Regions from separate parts of the Homo sapiens genome. Here regions 1 and 3 are each linked to region 2. Evidence: fine-mapped expression QTL. A gene starts in region 2. Each other region holds a variant in brackets. All regions are shown on one strand. Distances are between the middles of the regions. Region 1 overlaps GSG1L (GSG1 like). Region 2 holds the start of GSG1L (GSG1 like). Region 3 overlaps GSG1L (GSG1 like).

Region 1 (4,204 bases), 260 kb before region 2:
GCATTGATATTTATTTTAGAAATACTGTCTGTTTCCATTTTAATAAAGGAAGCAACTCGAGCAGGACTCTATTGGATTTGATTTTGATCTAATAAAAATGCCAAGTTGCTCTGGGTCCAGAAAAATTCTTTCTTGAAATTCCCTCTGCTATTTTGAGGGCAGCAGCAGTGGCAGAGACCCATCTAGATGGAGCTCCCAGAAGCCACCTCCGCGCCCAGCATGCGACAGCCTCTCGTGGAGCCCAGCCTTACAGATACACCTGGCAAAATCAAAACCTTGTCTCAGGCATTGAACTTGACAGCTGCAATCAACTGCAAACCTCAGTCGCCCCTGAAAGGAAGATGCAGACACCTGGGCCATATGGCAACATCGCCTCCATCAAATGTCACGTCTGATGTGCTCCTGAGCTGGCTGGTGGCGCCACAAAGCCCCAAAGGCAGGTTTCAAAAGCAACTTCCTCAGGAAAAAAAAAATTATAGCCAAATCCATATCACAGTAGCCCCCCAGAATAACATCTTTGGGGACAGTTAGGATAACCAGAAGTTTATGTAATTGCTAATATAAAAGTGGCTTCTCAGATGGGAGGTGGTGGGAGAAACGTGGAGGTTGACAGCCAACAATTAAGCACCTATTATGTGCCACACACTAGTTTAGACTCTTGGGATATACACAGGAACAAAACACTCAAGGCGCCTGTTCTCATGGCACTTGGTGGAGAGAGGCAGCAAAACGAAAACCAAGCATGTGAACATAAAAGATCATTTCGGAGAGGGACAAATGCTAGGAAGAAAAGAGAACCCGGTGATATGGGGATGACTGGGGAAGCTGGTGCAGATCAGGGAAGGCTTCTCGGAGGAAGCGGCCTTTCAGCTGACTTAAAGATGAGACGAAGTCAGCCACACCATGATTTAGAGGGAGAGCATCCAGGCAGAGAGAACAGCAAGTGCAAGGGTCCTACCAAGGGAATGAGTTTTGCGTGTTCAAGAAAGAGGAAGGTCAGGTTGGCTGGGGCAGCATGGGAGATGGGGAAGAGGCCTACGGGGTTGGGAGCCTGAGAAGGAGTGGCCTCTCTCCCAGGGTAAGGAGCAAGATCTAATTGCCAAGCTGAGTTTTATTGCCGAGTGAACCAGAGATCCCAGCAAAGCTGATTTGCCTTACAGCACTGTATTTCTAGAAGAAGAATCCCCGCTTCTCAGGGCTGGATCAGCCATCAAATGAGATGGCAGAGAAGTGCTTAGCACAGACCTGCACACAGTAAGTGTTTAATAATGCCGGCTCCCTGACATCCCGCCTCCCCCGTTCCTCCTGCCGGCAAGTCAGCCCATCGCAGGATCTGAGCAGCTGCTCCCCGCAGAAATATTGCAAAACTCGTCCAGGCATTTCCAAAATATTTTCTTGGCTGAAAACCCACTAGCAGCTAAGAGGCCGAATTCTGAGACGGCATCATTTCCATACTCATTTGATCGGCTGCTTCTCTAGACCATGAGCTCCAAGAGGACCGAGGCCATGTCTGGAGGCACCCCACATCCTCAGTACCCTGCCCAACCAATGGAGCTGCTGACTGACATCACCTAGCGGTCCAGGGTGTGGGTGATGAGGTCAGACCGGCCGGGTTCAAATCCCAGCTTTGCTACTTTCTAGCTGTGTATTGAGTAAGCCATGGTCTTAACCTCCTGGGCCTCCGTTTCCTCGTCTGTAAAATGGGTCCGTATTTAGGGTTAAATGAGTGAATAAGTGCAAAGTCCTGAGAACATGCACAAAGGTGAGATACTGTGATTAGATCTAGGGGACTGAGTTCTTCTTGCTGGCTGTTTCCGTAATCAAATGCAGGTATCATCATGATAGCCCTGGAGGTCCTGCCAAGGGGTATCACCCTGGCTAAGTCCCCCCTTCCTGCTTTCCCTTTCCTGCACCCCATGTCATCCTGAGTGGGATGAGGCACCATGCCCTGCTATCCCGCACCCTGCATTGACCCCTTTCAAGCTCTGGCCACACAGTGCACGAATGGCTTGGGTCTGTCTCCCCAACAAGACTTGGAAGTCAACAGGGTCCAGCAACGTGCCTTATTCGTCTCCATGCTCCCAGGAGCCAGAGAGGTCTCCTTAGTAATGATTTGTGGAATAAATAAAGCAGCCTGCTTCAGGATCCCTGAAGTCACGGGATCTCTCACGCATGCCAGCATCCAGCCCACATTCCCCTGACCCCTCCCTCAGCTCTGACCACAGAGGGGGTCTCTTCCTTATT[A/C]GCTGTTTGACGTGGGAGTTCCCAGCAACTCCGCTATCCCCAGGGAATGACGGCCATCCCTGCTAATGCTCAGCTACCTGATAAAAGGTACACCTGGCGCAGGGGTTGTGGGGTCTCAGGCTCTTTTCTTCCCTGAGAAGCCAGGATTTGGAAAGTCTCTGGGGGCGACTGACAGTTTTCCACAGCTCTTTCCCCACCGGCCTCTGGCTCCCCTGAACCCCCAGGAGGTTAGGCCCCTTTTGTGTCACTGTGTCTCCCTACCCTACACATTCTCCTCAGATGATCTTTGCAGTCTCTGGGCTTCAACCATCCCATACTGTACTGCAGCCTCAAACTCCTGGGCTCAATCAATCCTCCCCTCCCACTTCAGCCTCCAGAGTAGCTGAGAATACAGGCTTGCACCACCATGCCCAGCTAATTTTAACTTTTTTTTTCAAGATGGGGTCTTGCTATGTTGCCCAGGCTGGTCTCGAACTCCTGGCATCAAATGATCCTCCTGCCTTGGCCTTTCAAAGAGCTGGGATTAAGGCATGCACCACTGCACCTGCCTGTCTCTCTGCCACCCTTTTAAGCTCCCCTCCGTTGATCTGGCTGCCTCCTGGAGGCCCTCACGAGCCCCTCAAACTCCACACAGACAAAGCAACATTGCCCTTCACAAACTGACCCCTCCCCATATCCTTCCATCAGTCAGGGACCCCATGCCCCTGACTGCTTGGGCAAAAATTCTGTGCATATCCTAGGTCCCTCCTCTCCCCCGGTCCTCACTCAAATCAGTCACTTATCTGATGCTGTCCCCCCAGCTCCACGGTGGTGCACACTGCTAACCCCCAACTGTGCAAGGGGGCTTTCTCCATCGCGCCCCAAGCCCCTCTGTCCATGCCCCGAGCCATTACCTCCAGAGAACTCATGCACCCGACCCTCTCTGCGGCAGCCCTTGAACAATGGCCCAGGAGAGTTGCCTTCCTATCTGGGGGGATGGCTCAGATACATATGCTCTGCACTGGTGCCCCCAGCCCCCAGCAGGCTCGACGCTGTGCCTTTGACTGGTCGCCTTTGTCTCCCTTCTTAGTCTCTCTTCCTCACTCCTAGTTGGGTGTTCAATCATCAAAATAAAGCACTTGCTGTTATATCCTCATCTCAAGGGACTTCCAGGGAAACACAAACCAAGACACTCTAGGAATTCTACCAGCAGAGGGTCCTTGAGCTACCCACTTTTATCTCCAACCCCACAGTTCAGGCCGCCACCATCATGTCTCCCAAGAACGACTGCAACAGCAAAACATTTTGTGCATATTGTAGATTACAAGATGGTCTCCTGGTCTCGAGTTTGGCTCTTCTCTGATCCTTTTCCCACAGTGCAGACATATATATATATATATATATATATATATAGATAGATAGATATAGATATAGATATAGATATAGATATAGATATATAGATAGATAGATGGTAGATAGGATAGATAGGATCTGTAGATAGATGATAGATAAATAGGTAGATAGATGACACGATTGATAGATGATGGATGGATAGATTAGATAGATGGTAAGATTTATAGATGATAGATGATTGATGGATAGATGATTGACAGATGAATAATAGATGGATGATGGATGAATAGATAGATTAGATGGATAGATAGATAGATAGATAGATAGATAGATAGATAGATAGATAAAGAAATAGGGAGGGACAGAGAGAGAGAGAGAGAAATAATGTGGACATGTCTTCTCCCTGCTTAAAATGCCCCGGGCTCCCTGCTGCAGAATCAACTTCCCCTCCACTGCATAGCGAACTCCGTCCCTGTCCTGCCTCCTGCCACCGTCGGCCCCTCCAGCTCTCCTGCCCTCCCATTGCCCTCCCTGCCTCAGCCACCCTGGTCTCCTGGCTATTCCACAAGCACTGTCTGGCTCCTTCCAGCTGTCGGACACACAGGTCCCTCTGCCTGCAAAGCTCTTC
Region 2 (4,204 bases):
ACAGAGGAGGCAGCACCGCAGGAAGCCTCCGGTTCATCATCCCAACCCCATCCAGTATGCACCCGGCAAATGTTTATTGAAGACCTACTATGCGCTAGACATTACTGGGAGGCAGCAGTGAACAAGACCAACCGGGCTGGCCCTCACAGAGTGACATCCTATGGGGAGTGGGGACTATAAGCTAGTGACCAAAAACAGGCCCCAGAAAATGTCAGGGAGTGCCAAGTGTGGCAGGGAGATAAACGCAGTGGTGAGATCCAAAGATGGAGACCCTCCCTCCAACGGGGAGCTCACAAGGTTGTCCCTCCTCAGTATCCTGACATGGAAGGCAGGTGGGAGAGTCCCAGTGAAAGGAGCCCCTGAAGAAGGAGGTGGGGCGGGGAAGGGCATTCCAGACAGAGGATGCAGCCTGTGCAGAGGCCTGGAGCTTTTCACTGGGTTCGCTTCACAGCTTCCTCCCTCTGCCCTCTAAACCACTTAGGCCACTGGCTTATTTAGGGCAAACTAAGGGTGGAGGTCTGCTGTAACCCACCCTTGAGCACACACATATGTGTGGTGTCCACACTGAGGAGCTAGGCATGCAGGGAGGAGTTTTAACCTTGGAGAAAGAGGTCAATTCACTCAGGAGGGTGTCCATGCCTGGACACCCGCTCAGAGATACCACGTCTTTCGGGCCAGCTCTACCTGCTGTGTGGCACAACCAGCTGTCCGGCAGCTGTCCCCTGGGCCCTGCCACAGCCCGGCTGTCTGCCTCCAAAACACGCACTCCAGCCCAGGCTGCCTCTGGAGGGTAGAGGAGGGGGTCCAGGCAAAGGGGACAGTCTGATCTGCCTTCTGAAAAGTCAGTCCCCCACCGAACCTAATAGGAGCCTTGTGCTAAGCTAAGCCCTCCTGGACTCCTCGACCCGGAGTTTGCCCAGCTGTCCCCAGTTCCCTAGCCTGCCTCTCCCAGGAGGGGGCCAGGATACAGAGGGCTCCCTGGCGTCTGGCAATAGGGGTGCCTCTGGGCGGGTGCGGCTTTCCGGGAGCCCGCGGGACTCCCCCACTCCCCACTCCCGTCTGGGAGGTTCGGCGTGGGTTGGCGATGGGGGTGGAAGGCTCCCGGGTCTGTGGATCTGCGGCAGGAGGGGCGGCTGGTAGCAGGAGTCCCTGCATCACCCCCACCCCCAGGGGCGTTCCGGGGTGGGTGGGGGCATCTAGTGCCCCGCGAAAGGAAGAGGAGGAGGGGGCGAGCGTGGAGATGAGTTCAGGAGCGGAAAGCAGCGCGCGCCCCTCCGACCGGCAGCGGGGGTGGGCGCCTTCCCGGGGCGCGGGAGCGTCCCCAAAGCCGCGGGGCGTCCGCAGCGGGTAGGAGCTCTGCCTTGCACCTCTCCACGGCGGGGCGTCCCGCACGTCCCCCCATGCTGGTCCCCGGCCCCGGAACGGCGCGCGCCCCCTGCCCCGGAACGTCGCCCCTAGCCAGGCGGAGCGCTGGGAGCTGGGCCCAGGCGGCGGGAGGAGGGCGAACGGGTCCGGGGCTCGGGCCTCGATGGCCGCGCCGCCCCGGGGGAGCCGGAGCCGAGCTGGCCGCCGCCCGCGCGCACTCACCAAGCCCGCTGAGCTCCTCCTCGCACGAGTACCAGATGCCGGTGTGGAAATTCCTGAAGAGGAAGCGGTCGTCGCCGGTCTCCCAGCTGTAGAGCGCGCCGCCAGGGGGGCCGTTCCCCGAGGCGGTGGCGGCGGCGGCGGCGGCGGCGGGGGCGGCGGTGCCGTTGGCCGTGGCGTTGGCGCCCGAGTTGGGGCAGTTGGCGCGCCCGCCCTGGCCGCAGCCCGGCTTGGGGACCCGCTGCGTGCCCTGGCACCAGTGCGTGGTGAGGAAAGCGGTGGTGGCGAACAGCAGCGCCAGCAGGTTCAGGGCCACGGCCAGGAGCGCTCGGCCGCGGCGGCTAGTCTTCATGCCGCCCGCGCCGCCGGGACGGGACTGCACCGCCGGGGAGCTCCGCGCGCGAAGTTGGCAGCTGGCGCCCCGCGTCAGCGGCCGCTGCCCGCCGCGCCCCGGGGCTCGGGTGCCTGAGATCGGCGGCGGCGGACGCGGCGCGGGCCCATGCCCCCCCCAACCCCGGGGTGGGGGCGCGGCGCGGGGGGCGTGCGGGGCGGGCTGGCGGGGCGGGCGGCGGTGGAGGAGCGGCTACGGCGCGCCCGGAGCCCGGAGCGCGAGTGCACCTCGGCTAGGAGCCGCTGGCGCCTGGCAGCGGCCACGGCGCAGGGACGCGCGCCCCTCCGTGGGGAGACACCTGCAGGCGGCCGGCGACACTGTTCCGGAGCCCGCCCGCACGGGGAGAGGGGGCCGCCACGCCGGGCGCGGGCGGGGGCCTGGGAGTGGAGGGACGCCCCCGAAAGAAATCCGAGCCAGGGTGAGGGTCTGAGACGCAAGGAGAATCCCAGGCAAGGCGCTCCTGAGAAAAGATCCCCACGGCGGACGTGGGGCAACAAAACCCGCCGGGAGCGGGCATCTCATGAGACCCAGAGAGGCCCTGCCCCAGGAGACAAGGGCAGAGCCTGCTGGGGCTCCCCAAGAGGGACACGGACCAGCAGGACCCTGTCCCAGAAGGGGATCCCCAAAAGGACCCCCGCACCAGACCCTGAGAAAGGAGTTTTTCCAAAGGTTCTAAACAGCAGAGCCTGCAGGGCTTCCCACAGCCAGGGAGCTGCAAGACCCCCTGGATAAGACAACCCATGCTGGACTTGGAGTGGCAGAATCTGTCAGGAGGCGCCCCTCCTGGAGTATTGGGTTATAGGGTTTGAAACGTTTTTCTGTCTCCTGGGTGTCACCTCCAGCATCTGGGAAGAGCTCCCCTCCAAGGATGAAACTGTCATCTGGGCTCCCAACCATGGCATGCAACTGCAGGAAGAGTGGCAACAGGGTACCCCAGACAGCCCACTGCACCCACCTGAGATCCCAAACAGCAGAACCCTAGGAGGGCCCATGCCGGCCACAAAGTTATTGCAGCTACCAGGCAGTGGTGCCCTACAGGGGCTGCCAACCCTGCTCACATGCACACCATGTGAATGTGGGTAGAATCTTCAAGATTCGGGTGGGGGCAGGGTGGCCAAACATACTGACTTTGGGATCAAGCATATCTAGGGCTTGACCAGCTGTGTGGCTTTGAACAGGTCACTTACCCTCTCTGAGCCTCAATTTCCATAACTATAAAAAAGGGAGGACCCCCCCCCCTTCAAGGTATATCACAGTGGGCTGCTGTAATGAGATCATGGCTGCAAAAAGCATTTGGCACACAGTAGACTCAATTAATAATTCACTGTTACTGACATCTGAACCAAGATCAGTTGACCAAACTCAGACAAACCTCTTCAGGCTCTCCTGTGCAACGTGGAAACTGTGTGCAACCCCGTCCCCACCTCTGCTCTAAGATGACCACGCTCCCTGAACTCCCTTCGCGCTGCACAGCACTTACTGCCCAGATGCTCAGGGCGTGCAACAATTAATTGCATGTTGATTATAAGAGCTCATTTGAATTCTGCCCAAGCTGAGAACTGCTCCGACAACCCCCGGCTTGCCGAGTGGCAGGCCTTGCAGAATTCAAGGTTAACCGATTATGAATTGCCTTACTCCTGTGGGTGAGCCGGCACCCACTGTCAGCTGCTGCTAATCTGCCGGGGGGTAGGTGAGAGGAAAACGTTGTGGGCAACGTCCCTGGTAAGAGCAGGCACGAAGGATGGCCAAGGGTCTCCAAACTTGCTTTTAGAGCCCTTTTCTGGCACTGTGCAAGAGATTCTCAACTATTTTGAAAGAGAGGACCTCCATGTGATAATGGTGGCATTGAGAGTATTGGTTGACAGAGAAAATACATCATCGCCAAACAGCTGTAAAGAATCCAGTAGCATCTTTTTTTTTTTTTTTTTTTTGAGATGGAGTCTCACTCTGTCGCCCAGGCTGGAGTGCAGTGGTGCAATCTCAGCTCACTGCAACCTCCGCCTTCTGGGTTCAAGCGATTCTCATACTTCAGCCTCCCGAGTAGCTGGTATTACAGGCGCTTGCCACCACGCCTGGCTATTTTTCATATTTTTAGCAGAGACGGGGTTTCACCGTGTTGGTCAGGCTTGTCTCGAACTCCTGACCTCAAGTGATCTGCCCGCCTCGGCCTCCCAAAGTGCTGGGATTACAGGCATGAGCCACCGCACCCAGCCTCCAGTAGCACTTTTA
Region 3 (4,204 bases), 270 kb before region 2:
GGCTGCAAGACAAGAGTCAAAGAGGAAGATGGTTGTGTCCATAGCTGGGGTGGGGGGTAATATTTTTGGCTTTCACTTTTTTCTTTCTGCTTTTAATATTCCTTAATGTTAGTGTTTTGCAAGTTTTACTATATTTATTAAGGGGTGGGAAACATTTTGCAAACATTTTGGAATCATTTGGCTTCAGAAAAACACATTTGTTTTGGCCTCAGTCATGGAAACCATTGCATACTTTGGAAGTGTTGGCTGCCAAGATAGAGGTGTTTGGGTTTTGTTTTGTTTTTTTAATCTAGAAGCAAATATTTGGTGCATGGAAAGGTATGATTGTTTTTCTAAATAAGCATTTAGGCATAATTTTAGCTGCTTGTACAGTGGCTGAAAAGCAGAGCCATGGAGAGATCATCAGAACAGAAAGAAAGTGATAGTGTATTTTTTAAGGAAAAGGAAAGGCCACAATCCCTGTCCTTCCCTGAGTTAAAATCAGGCTGTCTGTCCCCTGGATGCAGAGGGCAAGATGCTGAGGACTGGGGCCCTCCTCCCTTTCTCTGGCTACCCAGGAGGCACTTGGGGCTCAGAGCCATTTAAGGTGTGTGTATACAGAGGAGAACACTCCAGCAGCCCACCAGGGACCCCCACCCACTTCTCTTCTCTCCCAGGCCTTGTGCTGTAGATTGGGAATCTCAACTCAAAATGTCTTGTGGGCCCAAGCAGGCAATGTAAATGGATGAGGTGAGTCAGAGACAGTGCCAATTGTTACCAAGGAGAATGTGGGCTCAGATCTTCCTAAACTGTTTTTTTGTTTGTTTGTTTGTTTGTTTGAGATGGGGTCTCACTCTGTCACCCAAGATGGAGCGCAGTGGCGCCATCATGGCTCACTGCAGCCTCGAGCTCCTAGGTTTAAACAATCCTCTTGCCTCAGTCTTCTGAGTAGCTGTGACTGCAGGTGCACATCACCATCCCTGGCTAATTATTTATTTATTTTTTGTAGAGATGGGGTCTCGCTCTGTTCCACAGCCTGGTCTTGAACTCCTGACCTCAGGTTATCTTCCCGCCTCAGCCTCCCAAAGCCCTGGAATTACAGGTGTGAGTCACCATGCCCAGCTGGATCTTCAAAACTTTCTTTTTTTTTTTTTTGAAACGGAGTCTCGCTCTGTTGCCCAGGCTGGAGTGCAGTGGCGCGATCTCGGCTCACTGCCAGCTCCGCTTCCCGGGTTCACGCCATTCTCCTGCCTCAGCCTCCTAAGTAGCTAGGACTACAGGCACCTGCTACCACGCCCAGCTAATTTTTTTGTACTTTTAGTAGAGACAGGGTTTCACCGTGTTAGCCAGGATGGTCTCAATCTCCTGACCTCGTGATCCACCCGCCTCGGCCTCCCAAAGTGCTGGGATTACAGGCTTGAGCCACCGCGCCCGGCCCAAAACTTTCAAAGAAACTGAAAATCTGGATCTCGAAACAAAACCTCCTGGCTTTTAAATGATGACAATTAAGGTTTCAAATGTATTTTCAACAATCTGTGGGCCAAAGAGCATTTCTCAGGCTGCACTCAGCCCACGAGAGGCAGATCCCAGCCTGTGTCTTCGTTCCATGATTCTGTTCCATGGCTTTGCATAGGCTGATCCCCTAGGTGGGAGCGCCCTTCCCTGCTCTTCTCCAGCTGTTGACTCCCTGATTTTTTCAAATGCTGCCTGCTCTGGGAAGCATTCCATAGCCCTGTAGAATGCTTCCTAGAGCTGGCAGCATTTGGAAAATGGAGGCTTTGCTCCTTTCCCTGTGCCCTTCAGCAGCCTGCATAACTCTCTCCCCGAACTCATCACTTTGTGTTGTAATAGCCAGGTCAGCATGGGTCTCCCCAATGAAACTGGGGATGGGAGACAGCTTTATGAGCAGGGCCAGGGTCTGCTTCATCTTGGAGCCCTGATTCCCCAGCCCCTGGCCCAGCACAGAGCAAGTCCCAAACTGACTCTTTTTTTTTTCTTTTTAAACAAATGAAGAAACCATGGAGGAAGGGGAGAGAGTGATTCCTGCGCTTGGGATGCACCTGCTCTACCTGCTCTGAGCTTCTGTACAGTATGAAAAGGGTTTTTGCTCAAACTCTCCTCTTTTGGGTGAAGGCTCAGGTGATGGCAGGGGGCTGGGGAGACCGTACTTCGGTCTAACAGCCAAAGGTTCAAACCCAGCCTCCACTGCTTGCAAATTGTGTGAATTTTTTTTAAGCCGTGTGGCTTCTGACAAGCAACTTCACCTCTCTGAGCCTGCAAATGGATGAAAGCTACAAAGGAGTTGGCAGGCCCAGCAGGCACCCTGCAGAGAA[A/G]CCCTTCACTGTCCAATCTCAGACACAGACAGAAGTGGAAAGAACACAGTTCTGGAAGCACTAGAAGCAGGTTGGGTTTGAAAGCCTCTCTTCACAAATGGGGAAACCAAGGCCCATGGGTGGGAAAAGATTTGTCAAGGCCCCACTCAGAGCGTGGTAGCAGGTACTGTGGTTTCCATTTTCTGGGAACCTCCCAAGGTTAGCAGAGTATTTGACCACAGGAGGTTCCCCAAAGGTGTGATTTCTCTTCCCTTTTAAATCCAGATATCAAAACATGAACATATTTAACATCAGATCTCCTCCAGCCCCATCTCCCGCCTCCCTCAGTGAAGAATCACTGTCTTGAACCCTCTCTAAGCCACCAAGATCCGGGAATCAGACATAATTGCTGAATTGAATTAAATCACATCTACTGTTCCAAAATGGATTCATTGGGTTGGGAGGGCCCTTCAAGACCAGGAACGTCAATGCCACCACAAATGTACAGATCGGGAAACTGAGGCACTTAGAGGGAAACTGACTTGCTCAAGGTCTCTCTGCAGCTGGCAGAGTGAGGGTAACAGGTGGCAGGTATTGATGCTCCTGACCCTACAGTAGCCCAGCTTGGCACAGATCAGCTGGATCCCTTTACAGGGAAGTTCCTTCCGGCCAATCACCCAGCCGCTGTCCGAGGTGCTGAAAGCCTCTCTCTATAGGACTCACAGGTCCGCCCAAAGCCAACTGTCTGTCTGCCCAACCTTGACCTCTGCCCTCCAGAAAGAAAGGAAGCTTGAAGAGTGGTGGAAAATGAATCAGGGATGGCGCTAAGAAATCGGGCTTTGGAAACCTGTCAGCTAGTGACACTCTCATCGCTCTTCTAGGTCCACAAATCTCTACCATGAGAGGGCTTCAGAGGTGTCATCACATATGGGAATATCTGTTTACTGGTTTTCTCCTCATCTTGCCTTTGAGGCATGTGTCACAGGAGGACAAAGGCCAGCTCTGCTTTCCCTCACAGTTGCATCCCTGCATCAGCATGGTCCCAGGCACAGCGTTGAAAGCACGTGTCTGCAGAATGAGTGAACGGTGGAGGGCTCAGGAGGAAGGGCAGGCTTGAGTGGGACGGACCCGTATGGAGGGAAGTTTGTGTCTTCTGGTCTACCTCAGGCGGGCTGTTTTAGGAGATTGAATGGGGGCCATCTATCTCTCCACTGGGGTCATCCTCAGGGATTCCACGTTTCTGAGCCATAACATTCTCTTTGTCTCTTTCTTGCCCTTGGGATGAGACAAAGTCCACTGCACCTGCCACCTCTCCCCAGGGCCCCTGATTCCTCAGTCCTTTATTTAGACATGTGTTGGGCATGTATTGTGTGTCAGCCTCCACACTGGCTGCTGGGTTTACAGACGTGAGTGAGATGCGGCCCTCCCCCCGGGTGCTCACAGGCACACATATGAAGAGATGACAAGACCAGACATGCCTCCCACTCCTGCTGTGTGCCAGGAACCATTCAATGTGCTTCCTGTCCATGGACTCATTTAATCCTCAAAAATACGAGTTAGGTGCCATTATTATCCCCATTTTACAGGTGAGGAAACCGAGGTCCAGATAAATTAAGTCATTGTTTCAAGGCCTCACTGCTGAGACTTGAATCTAGCCAGCTTCACTCCAAAGGTTGGGCTCTCATCAACAGATACTTAGATTTAAAACTATGCAGCCATTAAAAAACAATGAAATCTGCTGGGTGCAGTGGCAGTGCCTGTGATCTCAGCACTTTGGGAGGCTGAGGCAGGTGGATTACTTGAGGTCAGGAGTTCAAGACCAGTCTGGCCAACATGGTGAAAACCTGTCTCTACTAAAAATACATAAATTATCTTGGTGTGGTAGCAGGTGCCTGTAATTCCAGCTACTTGGG

What was found. PIP is the estimated chance that this variant, and not a neighbour inherited with it, causes the effect.
Region 1: its variant is the best candidate, but not a certain one, in a credible set for the expression of GSG1L in aorta (GTEx, PIP 0.55).
Region 3: its variant is the best candidate, but not a certain one, in a credible set for the expression of GSG1L in tibial artery (GTEx, PIP 0.57).

The regions. Positions count from the first base shown.
Region 1 is chr16:27,800,160-27,804,363 of GRCh38, forward strand. The region is part of intron 6 of GSG1L (GSG1 like); the gene reads right to left. Among named protein-coding and RNA genes, the nearest start is that of KATNIP, 250 kb to the left of the region's middle. The variant A/C (reference allele first, on the strand shown) is at 2,245.
Region 2 is chr16:28,061,489-28,065,692 of GRCh38, forward strand. GSG1L (GSG1 like) reads right to left here and starts at 2,226. Exons shown (of 7, transcript NM_001109763.2): 1 at 1,588-2,226. The coding sequence starts at 1,936.
Region 3 is chr16:27,793,215-27,797,418 of GRCh38, forward strand. All of the region lies in intron 6 of GSG1L (GSG1 like), which reads right to left. Among named protein-coding and RNA genes, the nearest start is that of KATNIP, 250 kb to the left of the region's middle. RefSeq lists a silencer at 2,881-3,081. The variant A/G (reference allele first, on the strand shown) is at 2,313.